Linked DNA regions of Homo sapiens: region 1 is linked to region 2. Evidence: fine-mapped expression QTL. Tissue or cell type: esophagus muscle. Region 2 holds a variant in brackets; the other region holds the start of a gene. All regions are shown on one strand. Distances are between the middles of the regions.

What was found. PIP is the estimated chance that this variant, and not a neighbour inherited with it, causes the effect.
Region 1: it holds the start of NXN, and the variant in region 2 is fine-mapped to the expression of NXN in esophagus muscle (GTEx, PIP above 0.99). The same link has a PIP of 0.9 or more in gastroesophageal junction.

What each region holds. Positions count from the first base shown.
Region 1 is chr17:976,727-984,726 of GRCh38, reverse strand. NXN (nucleoredoxin) reads left to right here and starts at 4,951. Exons shown (of 8, transcript NM_022463.5): 1 at 4,951-5,408. The coding sequence starts at 5,049. RefSeq lists enhancers at 3,384-3,678, 5,103-6,038.
Region 2 is chr17:929,236-937,498 of GRCh38, reverse strand. All of the region lies in intron 1 of NXN (nucleoredoxin), which reads left to right. Among named protein-coding and RNA genes, the nearest start is that of NXN, 46 kb to the left of the region's middle. The variant T/C (reference allele first, on the strand shown) is at 3,479.

The sequences.
Region 1 (8,000 bases), 47 kb before region 2:
CCCAGCTAATTTTTTAATTTTTAGTAGAGATGGGATTTTGCCATGTTGCTCAGGCTAGTCTTGAACTCGTGACCTCAGGTGATCCGCCCACCTTGGCCTCCCACAGTGCTGGGATTCCAGGCATGAACCACCGCGCCCGGCCCACATCATGTGTGCTACTCTTTCTAAAGTCCAAGGACTGTGATTTATGAATCTTAAAAGTGACAAATATATATTTGTGCTGTGTGTATTTCGTATGACTTCATGTGCCTTCAAAAGCAATTTCTGAAGAGAAAATTCTAATATGTTCTACAGAATGCGATACATGTTGAGGCTCATTCCTACATATTTTAAAACAATAATAATTTTCAGAATAGCCAAGTCGATTCATGTAACATCGCTAGCTGAACACCAGTGGGGACATTCTCCTTTAGAGAACCACATACACAGAGAGCAAGATTTCTGTAGCCCAGAGCACACTGGCTAATTCTTCACAGGATGCCAAATGACTCCTTGGGCTTCTTATAACACCCACTACAATTATGATTCTGGGATCATTTCCATTGCAAATCCCCTCTTTCCACACCCCTTTAAAAGGCAGCTGTGATATTTGGCCTCTAACCAAGGCCTGCCGCATCCACAATTCTCTAAATTTTATTTATATTTCATGTGCAGTGTGTTCGAACTCTCCCTTCCCCAGGTGCCAGATGCTGGTTTGGACACACTCCAGTGGAAAGTGCTTTCCTGTTAAATAAGACAAGTCACACATGGAAGAAACCTCCTCTTTATATCAGACTTGCACCAAGTATACCAAAGTTAATACTCGAATATTTGCAATATTTGCAGCCCCCCAAATTCCCTCTTCACCGGCCTCCACACCAAATGCCTCTTGCCCTTTGGCTGCCGTAGCAGGTAAATGCTGATAGCCCTTTTACATTTCTGTAGTTTTCATAATTTTGAAAGTGTCAGAGTGTAGGACTCTAACACTCTTTCAGTAGTGCCTAACCCACGTACCCAGTGCATGGGCCTTTCAGATAAGATTTGGATGAGATGATAAAACATTGTAACCCATTTACAGGATTTCAAAAGATGTCTAGTAACTATGTGTGTGTGTGTGTGTGTGTGTGTGTGTGTGTATATATATACTTTTTTTTTTTTTTTGAGATGGAGTCTCTCCCTGTCGCCCAGGCTGGAGTGCAGTGGTGCGATCTCGGCTCACTGCAAACTCCGCCTCCCGGGTTCATGCCATTCTCCTGCCTCAGCCTCCCGAGTAGCTGGGACTACAGGTGCCCGCCACCTCGCCCGGCTAATTTTTTGTATTTTTAGTAGAGACGGGGTTTCACTGTGTTAGCCAGGATGGTCTCAATCTCCTGATCTCATGATCTGCCCGCCTCGGCCTCCCAAAGTATTGGGATTACAGGTGTGAGCCACCTCACCTGGCCTAGTAACTTAATATATATGATATGAGTAGCTTTAAATGTTTTCACCAAGGCCGGGTGGTGGCTCATGCCTGTAATCCCAGAACTTTGGGAGGCTGAGGCGGGTGGATCACTTGAGGCCAGGAGTTTGAGACCAGCCTGGCCAGTATGGTGAAAACCCCGTCTCTATTAAAGATACAAAAAATTGGCCAGGCTTGGTGGCGGACGCCTGTAATCCCAGCTACTCCAGAGGCTGAGGCAGAGAATTGCTTAAACCTGGAGGGGCGGAGCTTGCAGTGAGCCGAGATCGCGCCACTGCACTCCAGCTTGGGCAACAGAGCAAGACTCTGTTGCAAAAAACAAACAAACAAAACAAAACAAAAAAATTAGTGCATGCCAGTAATCCCAGCTATTTGGGAGGTGGTGCATGCCTGTAATCCCAGCTACTCGAGAGGCTGAGGCAGGAGAATCACTTGAATCTGGTAGGCAGAGGTTGCAGGAGCTGAGATCGCACCACTGCACTCCAGCCTGGGCAACAGAGTGAGACTCTGTCTGTAGGGACCAGCCCCACAGGGTCAGTGGGTCTCTCCCCGTGTGCGGAGACGAGAGAGTGTAGAAATAAAGACACAAGACAAAGAGATAAAAGGCAGCTGGGCCTGGGGAACCACTACCACCAAGTCGCGGAGACCGGTAGTGGTCCCAAATGCCAGGCTGCACTGATATTTATTGGATACAAGACAAAGGGGCAGGATAAGGAGAGTGAGCCATCTCCAATGATAGGTAAGGTCATGTGGGTCACGTGTCCACTGGACAGGGGGCCCTTCCCTGCCTGGCAGCCGAGGCAGAGAGAGAGAGGAGACAAAGAGAGAAACAGCTTCCACCATTATTAGAGACTTTTAGTACTTTCACTAATTTGCTACTGCTATCTAGAAGGCAGAGCCAGGTGTACAGAATGGAACATGAAGGCGGACTAGGAGCGTGACCACTGAAGCACAGCATCACAGGGAGACAGTTAGGCCTCCGGATAATTGTGGGCGAACCTGCAGTCAGGCCCTCCACAAGAGGTGGAGGAGTAGAGTCTTCTCTAAACTCCCCCCGGGGAAAGGGAGACTCCCTTTCCCGGTCTGCTAAGTAGCGGGTGTTTTTCCTTGACACTTACGCTACCGCTACACCACAGTCCGCCTGGCCACGGGTGTCTTCCCAGACGCTGGTGTTACCGCTAGACCAAGGAGCCCTCTGGTAGCCCTGTCTGGGCATAACAGAAGGCTCGCACTCTTGTCTTCTGGTCACTCCTCACTATGTCCCCTCAGCTCCTATCTCTGTATGGCCTGGTTTTCCCTAGATTATGATTATAGAGCGAGGATCATTATAATATGGGAATAAAGAGTAATTGCTACAAACTAATGATTAATGATATTCATATATAAGCCTATCTAAGATCTATATCTGGTATAACTATTCTTATTTTATATTTTATTACACTGGAACGGCTTGTGTCCTCGGTCTCTTGCCTCAGCGCCTGGGTGGCCTGCCGCCCACACTGTCTCAAAATAAATAAATAAATAAATAAATAAATAAATAAAGTTTTCACTAAAAAGTGATGCTTTCTGTGTGTGTTTTATAATATTGTCCCTACAGTGGCACAGACTTTCAGCATGAAAGTCTCCTGAGAATTAAGGTGGAATTCGACTTTGCAGTAGGATTCTAGGGTGTTCGAAGGCGGTCCTCCATCTAAGATCTTACCTGTGTCATTAGCAATACCAGCAGGTGACTAAGGAAGTGGATATAACTTGTAGAGACGCCAGTCCACTTTCCGCTCCCATCTCCACCTCTCCCAATTGTTTTATATGGTAACATTTCACCAAGCTGGAACCCTGCACCATTCCTTATTCTACCCTAGAAAAACGGAGAACCTTCGATGTGAACACTTACGTTTTGTGCCAAAAGCTTGAAGTTCTATTCTGAGGTTTAAATTAGCTCCCGCAAAGCGTCCTATCATTTGTGTATGTGGAAAGCTGCTGTAAAATAAAAGCATTGTGCCTGGTGTCCCGGCAGTGTCTTTTCACAAATGGAGTTTGGTCGGCCTCATTTTTCACTCTTTCCATTAGGTGGCGATGGATGCACAGGAAATATCCTCCGAAGCGGCGGTGGAAGCTCTGAGAGGGGCGGGTTTTCAGCTTTTATTTTTTTGCTTTCGCTGAGTCGTCAGTAGCTGATCCACACCGGCGGCCTGTTACTGTGGCTGGGCCCGGATCTGCACCTGCTTCGTGCACCAGTGGGTTGGGTTGGGGGGAGGCGCTGCGTGGCCAGAGTACTCGCCACGGACCACCTGTTTTTTTGTTTTTTTTGAGACGGAGTCTTGCTCTGTTGCCCAGGCTGGAGTGCAATGGAGCGATCTCGGCTCACTGCAGCCTCCGTCTCCCGGCTTCACGCCATTCTCCTACCTCAGCCTCCTGAGTTGCTCGGATTACAGGTGCCTGCCACTACACCCCGCTAATTTTTGTATTTTTAGTAGAGGCGGGGGGGGGGTGTCACCATATTGGCCAGGCTGGTCTCGAACTCCTGACCTTGTGATCCACCCACCTCGGCCTCCCAAAGTGCTGGGAATTCAGGCGTGAGCCACCGCGCCCGGCCCAGACCACCTGTTTAATCCAGCTTCTCCCTAAGCATTGGGGAGCATCCTGCCAGCTGGTAGGAAAAAAAAAATCTCTAGAAATGTTCTCAACTATCCATAGACTTGACATGAGGATGGAGCGGATTCAGGAGCGCGGCCAGCATTGGTCTGGAGGCCCCGCGGCGTCCTTTGCATCCATTTGTGGGGCTGGAAGACAGATTCGCTGGGGGGAGAGGCCCCGGCGACCCCTGGACGGAAATCCCACACTGAGACCTGGCACCCTAACCAGACCCCACCAGAAGCTGCGAGGGCGTCCTCGGCCCCCTTAGAACAGCTTGGAACACACAGAGGAGTCAGTGTCCAGCCAGGCCCGGCCTGATGCAGTGAGGACGGCGGGTCCTATAAGCATCTCAGGGTCAGTGGGGCCCGGAGCGGCCTAAGGGTCAGGCTTCGTGCAGGGAGAGGAGGAGGGAAAGGCCGGGGAGGAACAGGAAGAGGGTGAAGAGCTCCGCGGGGAGGGGGCGGGATCCCTGGAGGTCTGGAGGGAATTTAGAACTGGGGAGGAGAGAAAATGCGGGCCGGGCTGCAGCCCGGGAAAGCGCCGGCTCAGCGGGCCCTTCTCCTTTCTTCACTTCGGCCGTGGGCTTTCCAGGGAGAGTGCGGCGTTTCGGGTCCGGCTTCTCGCCCAAGCAGTCACCCCGCGCACCGCGGCCGGCAGCTGCGGACCCCGCCTGGGCGGAGAGCTCTGGCCACCGCCGGCCGCAAACGGGGCGTGGCGAGGGCGGAGGGGGCGTGGCGAGGGCGGGCGGAGGGGCGTGGCGAGGGCAGCCGAAGGGGCGTGGCGCGGGCCGCGGAGGGGGCGTGGCAGGGCGGGGGAAGGGGCGTGGCGCGGGCAGGCGGAGGGGGCGTGGCGTGGGCGGCCCTACTGGGCCGGGCTCTGCTCTCCCCAGCGCCTGCCGCCGACGCCGCCGCCTCCTCCCGCCGCGCGGACCGTGGAGCGGGGTCGCAGCCGCCTGCCCGCCCTGCGGTGGGCCAGGATGTCGGGCTTCCTGGAGGAGCTGCTCGGCGAGAAGCTGGTGACGGGCGGCGGCGAGGAGGTGGACGTGCACTCGCTGGGCGCCCGCGGCATCTCGCTGCTGGGTCTCTACTTCGGCTGCAGCCTCAGCGCCCCCTGCGCGCAGCTCAGCGCCAGCCTGGCCGCCTTCTACGGGCGCCTGCGGGGGGACGCGGCGGCCGGGCCGGGGCCGGGAGCGGGGGCCGGGGCGGCGGCGGAGCCCGAGCCGCGGCGGCGCCTGGAGATCGTCTTCGTGTCCTCGGACCAGGACCAGCGGCAGTGGCAGGACTTCGTGCGGGACATGCCGTGGCTGGCGCTGCCCTACAAGGAGAAGCACAGGAAGGTGAGCGGCGCGGGCCTCGCCGGCCCCTGCCCGCCCCCCACGCCCGTTACCCCTGCCCGCCCCCCACGCCCGTTACCCCTGCCCTCCGCCAACCCCGTTGTCCCCCTGCCCGCCCTCCACCCCCCGACCCCTGCCCCCAGTCCCCCGCCCCCCGACCCACTGTCCTCTCCCCGCCCCCCACCCCGCCGTCCCCGCCTCTGCCCCCCCCCCTTCCGCGCTGTGCCCGCACCCTCATCCCAGGACCCCTCTTTGGTTCGAGTGCTGCGCTGCGCCCGCCCTGGAAAGTTGGACCCCCCTCGGCCCCCGGGATCCCGGCTCGAGCCCCTCCGTCCGCACACGCTGGGAGCCTCGGGTGGGGGCGGCTGCGCTCGGGGATCCCGGTTCCGCGACCCCTTCACCCGCGAGCAGAGGCGCCAGGCCCTTCCTGCCTCCGCCGCCGACCCCCGCGGATTCCCACAGTGGGGAGGGGAGGGGAGGGGAGGGCGCACGCCCCCCGCCCGTGGCGCCCAAACCAGCGCGTTTCCTTTCTTTCCGGGAGAAACCTGCCTTCCCGGAGCCCCTTCCCCGGGGACCGGGGACCTGGGGGCCGAGGCCGAGGTCAGGAGAGGCGGCCGGTGACCGTGGCCGTGGCTGTGGCCGAGAAGGGCGCTCACGGCTCCGTCTCCCGCCCCCGCCTCCCCCGCCCCAGGCTGAGTTCGCGGCCACCGGGGAGCTTTGCATTGTCTGGCCGTCCAGCCTCCTCCCCAGACGCCTCCCGGGCGCGGGAACAGCCCGGGCTGTGCAGAGCTCAGCTGCGTGGTGGCCCCTGTGGTCCCGGGGTCTTCGAGTTAAGGGCTGAGCTGACCCCATCGATGCACATTGACTGGAAGAAGGAGGATTTGGGGAAATGGATACTTTGCTGTCAACTTCTCGTGTCTCCCAGTTTGCTGCCGAGTTGAGTTTGGGTTTCTGAGTGTGTCCCTTGGGTGAGGATGTCTGTCTCTGTGATAATAAAGCACATCCAGGACATTTTGTAATGAATGGAGTCAGAAAAAGTTTTGGAGCGCTGTTGCTTCGTGAGTGTATATGATGCAACGTGTGAATCCAGCCCCTTTCCCTTTTTGAGGAAAGCCTGTTTCTGGAGTGGACAGAAGGGCTATTCTGGGGGCGTTTAGTTTCCTCTGGGGAGCATGGCGAGGCGTGCCACGTGTTCCTTTTATATGTGCAGAATCTTGTTGAGAAGCATGATTTAGATTTACTGGGAGCAAAAGGCTTACACTGTGACCCCAAATGTCTTGAGTAAATCATCCATCCCGAAGCAGTGGGAGGTAGAGATTCGAGATTTAAAGTATGAAATACAGTTGATCCGATGCAGTTTGTAAATTTCATATTGGGAAAACATAGGTTCACTAACCACTCAGAGGCAAGAGTTGGCATTTTTACTGCTTTTTAGGTTATTTTGCCCATTTTGATTGACATGCTTGATATAGTATGAATATGCATGGCCAGTACTTTTTGATTCAAAATACGAGAATCCTTTGTTTTCCTTGGTGGTGGTTTTTGTGATACGTTCGTGGAGAAATAATGTTCAGAAAGGGATTTGCCAAAAAACATTTTCATTGTTACGGCAAGTTTCTGTTGTAGACTAAAGTCTACTTAAAATAATGTCCTTATCCGGCAATACAAATGATTTCTAGCTTTTGAAAACATAGAATTATGGTAAAATGTTACAGGCTTAACAGCCTATTGTTGTGTTTTTTACTGAAGAGGAAATACATTTTTTGGATAGTAAAAATATGGAGCAAACAGATGTTTTGCAAATGCTTAGAGCTTTTTCCGAAAAAGGAGAATATTTGATAGGACATGGGCCATGGCTGGCTCTCTATACCCTGGACAGGCTCTTTGCATGACAAAAAGTATTCTGCGGCCCTAGCCTGGACCTGCTGATTCCTCCATGATGAGAACCTGGATGACACAGGGCAGACTCTCATTTGAAAATACCGTTGAGAGTGCTGGACGTGCCCAAACCCTGGTGCGTTAGCATCTTAAACATTTTATTTTTTGGCCCAGAGTTTTTCTGACTCACATCCTATACTTTATTCTCTAAAACCAGTCCAGTTTTCAAGGAGGTAGTTTCTTTCCTTGGTCGTGAACAAACCACTCAAGATCTTTCTCGGGGATATATACCAGGTAAAAAGACTCCAGCTGTCCTTCTTATGGAACACATACTCTTGGAAATTACAAAAGCTACGTGCTGATTTTAAAAGGAATTATTGCCGGGTGCGGTGGCTCATGCCTGTTATCCCAGCACTTTGGAAGGCTGAGGTGGGCGGATCACCTGAGGTCGGGAGTTCCAGACCAGCCTGACCAACATGGAGAAACCCCGTCTCTACTAAAAATACAAAATTAGCCAGACCTGGTGGCGCATGCCTCTAGTCCCAGCTACTAGGGAGGCTGAGGCAGGAGAATCGCTTGAACCTGGGAGGCGGAGGTTGCGGTGAGCCGAGATCGCACCATTGCACCCCAGTCTGGGCAACAAGAGCGAAACTCTGTCTCAAAAAAAAAAAAAAAGGAATTATTTTCCCCCTTGAAACCAAAGAGATGTGGAACAAA
Region 2 (8,263 bases):
GTCCCTCCCCACCTGTTTTCCCTGAAGCTGCCCCTTTGGTTCTCACTGTGTACGGATCACCGCAGAGCCCCCTTCTCCAGGTGTGTTCCTTGTGTCCTGAGTTCTCAAGCAGCCTTGTGGGTCCCTGTTGGAAGCTGATTCCTTCCGTTTCCTCTGGCCGCTTCCCTCTTGGACTCCTGGGCTCTTCTTTTTTGCCCTGCACCTTGCCCCCTGCCCTCCTTTTTCTTCCTTAAGAAAAAATGCACCCAGCACCTTGGGAGGCCGAGGCGGGCGGATCACCCGAGCTCAGTAGTTTGAGACCAGCCCGGCCAACATGATGAAACCCCATCTCTACAAAAAATACAAAAAATCAGCCGGGCGTGGTGCTGGGTGCCTGTAATCCCAGCCACTCAGGACACCGAGGTGGGAGGATCACTTGAGCCCGGGAGGCAAAGGCTGCAGTAAAGGCTGCAGAGTCTCACTGTGTCACTCAGGCTGGAATGCGGTTGTGCAATCTCGGCCTCCTGGGGTCAAGCTGATCCTCCCACCTCAGCCTCCCAAAGTGCTGGGATTACAGGCGTGAGCCACCGTACCCGGCCTTTCTGCCTCTTTTCTATCCATAGGTGTTGTGATGGTGAACACAGGCCTGCCTTTTCTGGAACACTCCCAGTTTTATGTCATTTTAACTTTTTCATTAAAGGTGAGCTTATGTGGGGAAGTGTGACTTAACTGTAATACCTCTGTGAAGTATCTCGTATGCGTTTGCAAGTTAGAAAAGAAATCCGTTATAAATCCATGGATTCTGAAAACTGGTACCGCCGACAGCTCTGATGCCCCGTTTTAGCCAGACATCGTAGCACCCTTTTTTTCCCTCACTGTTTGCACAACCAGAATTGGGCACCCCAGACCTGAGGCAGGCCGACACACCTCGCCCTTCTCTCCTGCCCTTCCTCCAAGTCCAGTTTTTCCGCAGCAGAATCCTGCTTTCAGTCACTTTTGGGGACCGGAAGGTGTGGAAGGAGAGAATCATCGAGCTGGGTGGTGGCAGCACGCGGCGTGTGCACTGACAGGATGGGCTTGACCTGGGCAGATGCTGGCCGGGTTGTGTGTGGTGCACACTCACCACCTCACCGTGGACACTCACCAGGGCACCCGTCGCTGCAGTGCCTCAGAGGGAGGGCGGCTCTTCCACCCCACGGGAGAAGAACACAAAGCAAAACCAAAGGCTTTGTCGCAGGGGACGTTTCTGGTCTAACAACAGGAGGTTGCTTCCACCAGGCCCCACAGCATTGAGCCCGATGGCGTGTCTTGAGTCCATAGGTTGAATCGAGTGGCGTGCTGGTGAGAGGGACACACTCCAGCCATCTTTTGGAGGACAATCGATGGAAGCACAAGCAGGAGCTGGAGGTTTTTTTTTTTTTTTTTTTTGAGATGGAATCTTGCCCTGTTGCCCAGGCTGGAGTGCAGTGGCACGATCTTGGCTCGCCGCAACCTCCACCTCCTGGGTTCAAGCGATTCTCCTGCCTCAGCCTCCTGAGTAGCTGGGATTACAAGCATGCACCACCACATCCAGCTAATTTTGTATTTTTAGTAGAGACTGGGTTTCACCATGTTGGTCAGGCTGGTCTTAAACTCCCGACCTCAGGTGATCCACCTGCCTCCACCTCCCAAAGTGCCGGGATTATAGGCGTGAGTCACTGCGCCCGGCCTAGGCTGCAGGTTTTATTCCAGGCAAGGATGTGGCTGGCATGGTATCTAGTGGGATGTTATGAAAGCTGGCTTTGTTCTGCAGGATGGCAACAGTCAATACCCGCATGAATAGCAGGCTCTCCCAGCTCTCAGAGCAAGCTCCTTCTGTGATTCCTGGGCGTGTTCTGCAGAGCTCAGGGTCTTAGACACAGTAGACGCTCAGTAAACACGTGTGGAGTGAATGAGCGCAGAGCTCATTGATCAGAGTGCATGTTTGTTGCAGCCGCCAGCACATCCTAAAGCTGGATCCTGAAGTGTCTTGGTCTTTTCCTACAACCTTGCCAGACCTTTAAGCATCTCCTTGTCCCGCCGGCCATGACCGAGCGGAAGCCTCCCACTTCTCAGTGTTCTTCAGCTGGGGGGTTTCTGGCTGTCACACAGACCACATGATATAGGAGGTGGGGGTTTTGTGCCAGAGGATTCCCAGATACGAAGGAATTGGAGCAGAGTCCTGCGGCTGTTTAAAGAGCACAGCAAGGCCGGGCGCGGTGGCTCACACCTGTAATTCCAGCACTTTGGGAGGCCAAGGTGGGCAGATCACCTGAGGCCAGGAGTTCGAGACCATCCTGGCCAACATGGTAAAACCCTGTCTCTAGTAAAAACACAAAAATTATCTGGGCGTGGTAGTGCATGCACCTGTGATCCCAGCTACTCAGGAGGCTGAGGCAGGAGAATCACTTGAACCTGGGTAGTGGAGGCTGCAGTGAGCCGAGATCACACCACTGCACTCCAGCCTGGGAGACAGGGTGAGAGACCCCATCTCAAAAAACAATAAATAAATAAAAAAAAATAAAGAGCACAGCAAAATGATGCAATAATGAGTGGCAGCAAGTGAGGACTCTGTCCAGACAGTCCGCTTGGGACTGGGCTAAAAGAATGTTCTTTCTTTTCTTTTTTTTGAGATGGCGTCTTCCTGTCACCCAGGCTGTAGTGAAATAGCACGATCTCGGCTCACTGCACCCTCCGCCTCCCGGGTTCAAGCGATTCTCCTGCCTCAGCCTCCCAAGTAGCTGGGATTACAGGTGCGTGCCATCACGACCAGCTAATTTCTGTATTTTTAGTAGAGATGGGGTTTCACCGTGTTGGCCAGGCTGGTCCCGAACTCCTGACCTCAGGTGATCCACCCACCTTGGCCTCCCAAAGTGCTGGGATTACAGGCATGAGCCACTGTGCCTGGCCGAGAATTTGGGTTGGAATTTGGCCAGACTTGGGAATTTCTTGACTGTAAGTCACCAATTCAGCGTCTTTTCCAGAAATGACTTTCTATACTTCTCTTACTTCCAGAAGTAAGTTTTCTTCTTATTGTACTTTTTTTTTTTTTCTTTGAGACAGAGTCTCGTTGTGTTGCCCAGGCTAGAGTGCAGTGGTGCTATCTCGGCTCACTGCAAGCTCCATCTCCCGGGTTCACGCAATTCTCCTGCCTCAGCCTCCCCAGTAGCTGGGACTACAGGTGCCCGCCACCACGCCCGGCTAATTTTTTTGTATTTTTAGTAGAGACAGGGTTTCACCGTGTTAGCCAGGATGGTCTCAATCTCCTGACCTCGTGATCCGCCTGCCTGAGCCTCCCAAAGTGCTGGGATTACAGGCGTGAGCCACCGCGCCCGGCCTCCCGGGGTGCTGGGATTACAGACGTGAGCCACGGCGCCTGGCCTTCTTATTGTACTTTCTAAATTTCCCCATAGTCTGCATGTATGACTTTTATAATCATAAAGTGAAAAATAAAATGCCTTTTTAAAAATTAATTGAAGTT[T/C]GAGAACATCGTGTCATTTGTTTTAAATCACATAGTGAGGCATGCCACCCATTTCCCCTCCTGTTTATTTTTCAATTAATAAAAGGCAAGGGATGTTTATGCTTGAGGCTTGAGGACCTTGGCTGCTTGTATTGGAATCCACGACTTTAGTCCAAATTGATAAGTGTTCTGGTATTTGTGGAGGCTTTTTATTTATTTTATAAAAACCAGCTTACACGAAGGCACATTTCTAAAGTTGACCACGTAGGCTTCAGGATAAACAGCTTTCTAGTTAGTGCCTCGTGAATAATACGGATATGGATTTACTGGAGGTGTCTTGAATGTGTTCTTATTGCATTGTTTTAAGTTAGTGGGAGGCCAAGATGAAAGGGGGAATTTCAAGATAAGCTGTGTGAGTCATTTGGTGTTGCGGTGGGGAGTTGAGAGGGATGGAATTTGCCTTGGCATTCACGCAGAGTCCTGGTGCAGAAAGTGTGTATCCAAGCAGAAGGTGGCCTGGGCTTGTCGGAGTCAAGGGGCCCTCATTTTGGCTGGGATTTGGGAAGTGAGCATGTCGTGAGTCTAATATTAGAAAACCAGTTCTTCCCCTTCCCCCACCCCCATCCTGAAAGCTTTTCTGTCCCTGTCGCGATGTGTGCCCGGAGTCTCTCCCGCTCCTGTCTCGAGTGCTTTCTCTGTGAGCATTCATTTAATTTACTTCTTGGCTGCCTATCTTTTTACTAATCAGATTTCCTCCTCTGGCCGAGCTCTTCTCCCAAAGGCCTCAACTTTGTCTTCAGCTGCCTCGCACCAGTTAGGGGGTTCTGTGTTTCAGAGGTGGACGTTGGCTTCTGTAAGTGGTAACTGCAAATCTGGAGTACAGAATCACATCAGATCCACAAGAGTTTTCTGTTCTGTGGTTGGTTGTGTCGTTTCTCGGTCCTCGTGGCCCCAGAATGATCTTGCCTTCTGGAACCTCTCGGGACTTTTTCGCCCACTTGGGAGCTTCGGGCCACAGCCTTTGATGTTAGTGGGAAGGGATATTACAAGTGGTCATGACGACTGAAACTGAGCAGGTTCAAGAGGACGGGCTGGGCTGGGCGCGGTGGCTCACGCCTGGAATCCCAGTACTGAGGGAGGCCGAGGCGGGCGGATCACCTGAGGTCAGGAGTTCGAGACCAGCCTGGCCAACATGGAGAAACCTCATCTCTACTAAAAATATAAAAATTAGCCTGGCGTGGTGGCGGGCGCAGATGACTTATGCGAAGCCGGCCACAACAAGGCACTCCCCACCCACTCAGCTGCTTGTCCGGGGACCACACAGCCCACTCGCTGCCCACTGATGGCAAAAGTCGGTGCCTCTCAGAAGCCTCTTCCGGTGATGGGTCCTTGCTGCTGACCCCACTAGAGCTCACACAGGGCAGGGGCCCAGAACCTGGGGAAACTAGCCCTAGAGATCCTTTAAAATCCAGCCTGTGTTTTCTTAGAAGGGGCTCAGGCCTTCCCCTGAAGCTGCCTTACTCGCTGAGGAGACGACGACTGGACCCAACGCCGCCTCAGAGTTTTGTTTTGCTGAAGACCTGCGGTTTCCAAACTGATGAATAACCAGAAGGACTGGTTAAATGCGGATTCCTGGGCCCCATCCCAGAGTTCTTGACTTGGTAGGTCCAGGCTGGGGCCCAGTAGTTTGCAATTCTAGCAACAGTTCCCAGGCAACCCGGAAGCCGTACGTCCAGGGACCAGAGTTTAAGAACCGCCGCCTAGGACCAAAACAAGGCCGGTTTGGGTTGGTAGCTGGGCAGGTAGACAGACTCTTCAGATCAGCTTTGCCTTAGCTTTTTTTTCCAGGATTCCAAATAATTAAACATTTCTAAAATTGTTCGTTTTGTTTTATTTTTGAGATAGGGTCTTGCTCTATTGCCCAGGCTGGAGTGCAGTGGTGCAATCTCAGCTCACTGCAACCTCCGTCTCCCAGGTTCAAGCGATTCTCCTGCCTCAGCCTCCCCATTAGCTGGGATTATAGGCACCCACCACCACACCTGGCTAATTTTTGTATTCTTAGTAGAGATGGGGTTTCACCGTCTTGGCCAGGCTGGTCTTGATCTACTGGCCTCGAGTGATCCCCCCGCCTCGGCCTCCCAAAGTGCTGGGATTACAGGCGTGAGCCACTGCGCCCGGCCAAAAATTTTTTTTTTTTTTTTTTTTTTGAGACGGAGTCTTACTCTGTCGCCCAGGCTGGAGTGCAGTGGCGTGATCTCAGCTCACTGCAAGCTCCGCCTCCCGGGTTCATGCTATTCTCCTGCCTCAGCCTCCCGAGTAGCTGGGACTACAGGCGCCTGCCACCACGCCCGGCTAATTTTTGTATTTTTAGCAGAGACAGGGTTTCACTGTGTTAGCCGGGATGGTCTCGATCTCCTGACCTCACGATCCGCCCACCTCGGCCTCCCAAAGTGCTGGGATTACAGGTGTGAGCCACTGCGCCCGGCCAAAAATTTTTTTAAAATAAATAACATGTGCTTATGGCGAAAACAAAATCAAGTAGTATACATAGGCTTATTATATGACTTTATCTTTCTTGTTTTTTTTTTTTGAGACAGGGCCTTGCTCTGTCACCAGGCTGGAGTGCAGTGGTGTGATCTCTGCTCACTACAACCTCCGTCTCCCAGGTTTAAGCATTTCTTCTGCCTCAGCCTCTCCAGTAGCTGAGATTACAGGCACACACCACCACACCCAGCTAATTTTTTTTTTTTTTTTTTGGATGGAGTCTCGCTCTGTCGCCCAGGCTGGAGTGCAGTGGCGCGATCTCAGCTCACTGCAGCCTCGACTTGCTAGGCTCAGGCAATTCTCCCACCTCAGCCTCCTGTGTCGTTGGGCCTACAGGCGTGCGACACCACACCCGGCGAACTTCAACATTATGTGTTGGTTTTCTGCTAGGCTAGAGATCGATTTAGCTCCCTTAAAAGCAAACTCACCAGCCGGGTGCGGTGGCTCACGCCTGTAATCCCGGCACTTTGGGAGGCTGAGTCGGGCGGATCATGAGGTCAGGAGTTCGAGACCAGCCTGACCAACATGGTGAAACCCCATCTCTACTAAAAATACAAAATTAGCTGGGCGTGGTGGCTCACACCTGTAGTCCCAGCTACTCAGGAGGCTGAGGCAGGAGAATCACTTGAACCCGGGAGGCAGAGGTTGCAGTGAGCCGAGATCGCACCACTGCACTCCAGCCTGGGCAACCAGAGCGAGATTCTGTCTAAAAAAAAAAAAAAAGCAAACTCAACTTTCTTTGTCCTCTTGGTATACCACCATTTACGGTTTTCCTGGTTACACTTTTAGCATTTAATAACATGTTTATGCCTTTACTCCTTATCCTTCAATAGGACTTTGGGAACGTTGGTGTCTTTCTATCCTGCCCATCAGGTCTCCTGCACTTCCTTCCTATTTTTTGTACCTTTAGCTTTGTCAAGGTTGTTCGTATTTACATTGTGTTGTGTCACCGGGATTCATGCTTTGTGTGTAGTTGAAAATCAGCCAGTCAATCAATAGGGGCATTGTTGTGTCTGTAAATATTGTTTGTGGCAAGTTCAAGTGGTATTTTTTTTTCTTTTTTGAGACGGAATCTCGCTCTGTCACCCAGGCTGGAATGCAATGGCACGATCTCAACTCACTGGCAACCTCCGCCACCCGGCTTCAAGTGATTCTTCTGCCTGAGTCTGCTGAGTAGCTGAGATGACAGATATCCGCCATCACACTGGCTAATTTTTGTATTTTTAGTAAAGATGGGGTTTCACCATCTTGGCCAGGCTGGTTTTGAACTGTTGACCTCACGGTGATCTGCCTGCCTCAGTCTCCCATAGTACTGGGATTACAGGTGTGAGCCACTGCACCCAGCCTGAGTCCCCTTTTTAACTTGGAGAGTCCCCTTTCCTGGGAGTTACCAGTCCTCCTCCATTCCAGACACAGGTGGTTCTCTGGGTCGGCTACACAGCTGTCATTCTGGAACTTTCTTCGGTACTTTCCTGAGTTGGATTTTATTCTAACCCCCGTCATTGATTGATTCCAAAGTTTTTTTTTTTTTTCTGTAGTTCAGATACCAGTTAGATGTGTTACCAAGGAGATCTTAAAGAGCAAACTGCATTTTCGAGAGCAGAGCTTTAAAATTTAGTATGTGAGTTCAACAGGTTACGTGTAAATGGGAATCAGCTGTCTTTGGATTAAACACTACTACACAGTTTTTTTTAAGAAGATTAAAAACGGAAGTGAAGCAAGGATTCCAAACGCTCTTTCCAGAGCAGCCCAGCTGCTTTGCAACCTGGACTTGAGCCTCCTCCGGTTGGGTCAGTCTGGAATCAGAGCCGCCTCCAGGGATTGAGGGATGCGTGGTAGGTATGGTGGGAAATGCTAAGCTAAGGTTGAACCCAAGTCCTGAGTTGAAATCCCGGTTTTAGTTCCTGTTAGCTGGTTGATCGCCCTTCTATTTTGGACAATAAGCCCAGCCTTCCTGGAATATTGGGAAGGTTAAATAAACCAGAGGGTAGGGGGGCACACTGGAAAACTGGGATGTTCTTCACAGACAGGTTGTCATTGTGAAGCTGTGAGATCAGATGTTGGATCTTGCTACAGGAGCTAAACCTGCAAAAGCTGTAAGTGAAGACCGAGCTGGAGTTTCGTGCACAGTCAAAACGTGTAGCCAATTGGACATATTTAATAACGTGAACCAGTGTTTTCCTGCAGGACTCACCAACTCAAATGCCAGTAGAGGGCCAGGCAGGTGAAGCGAGTGGCCTGGGCCAGGTGGTGGGGGACAGA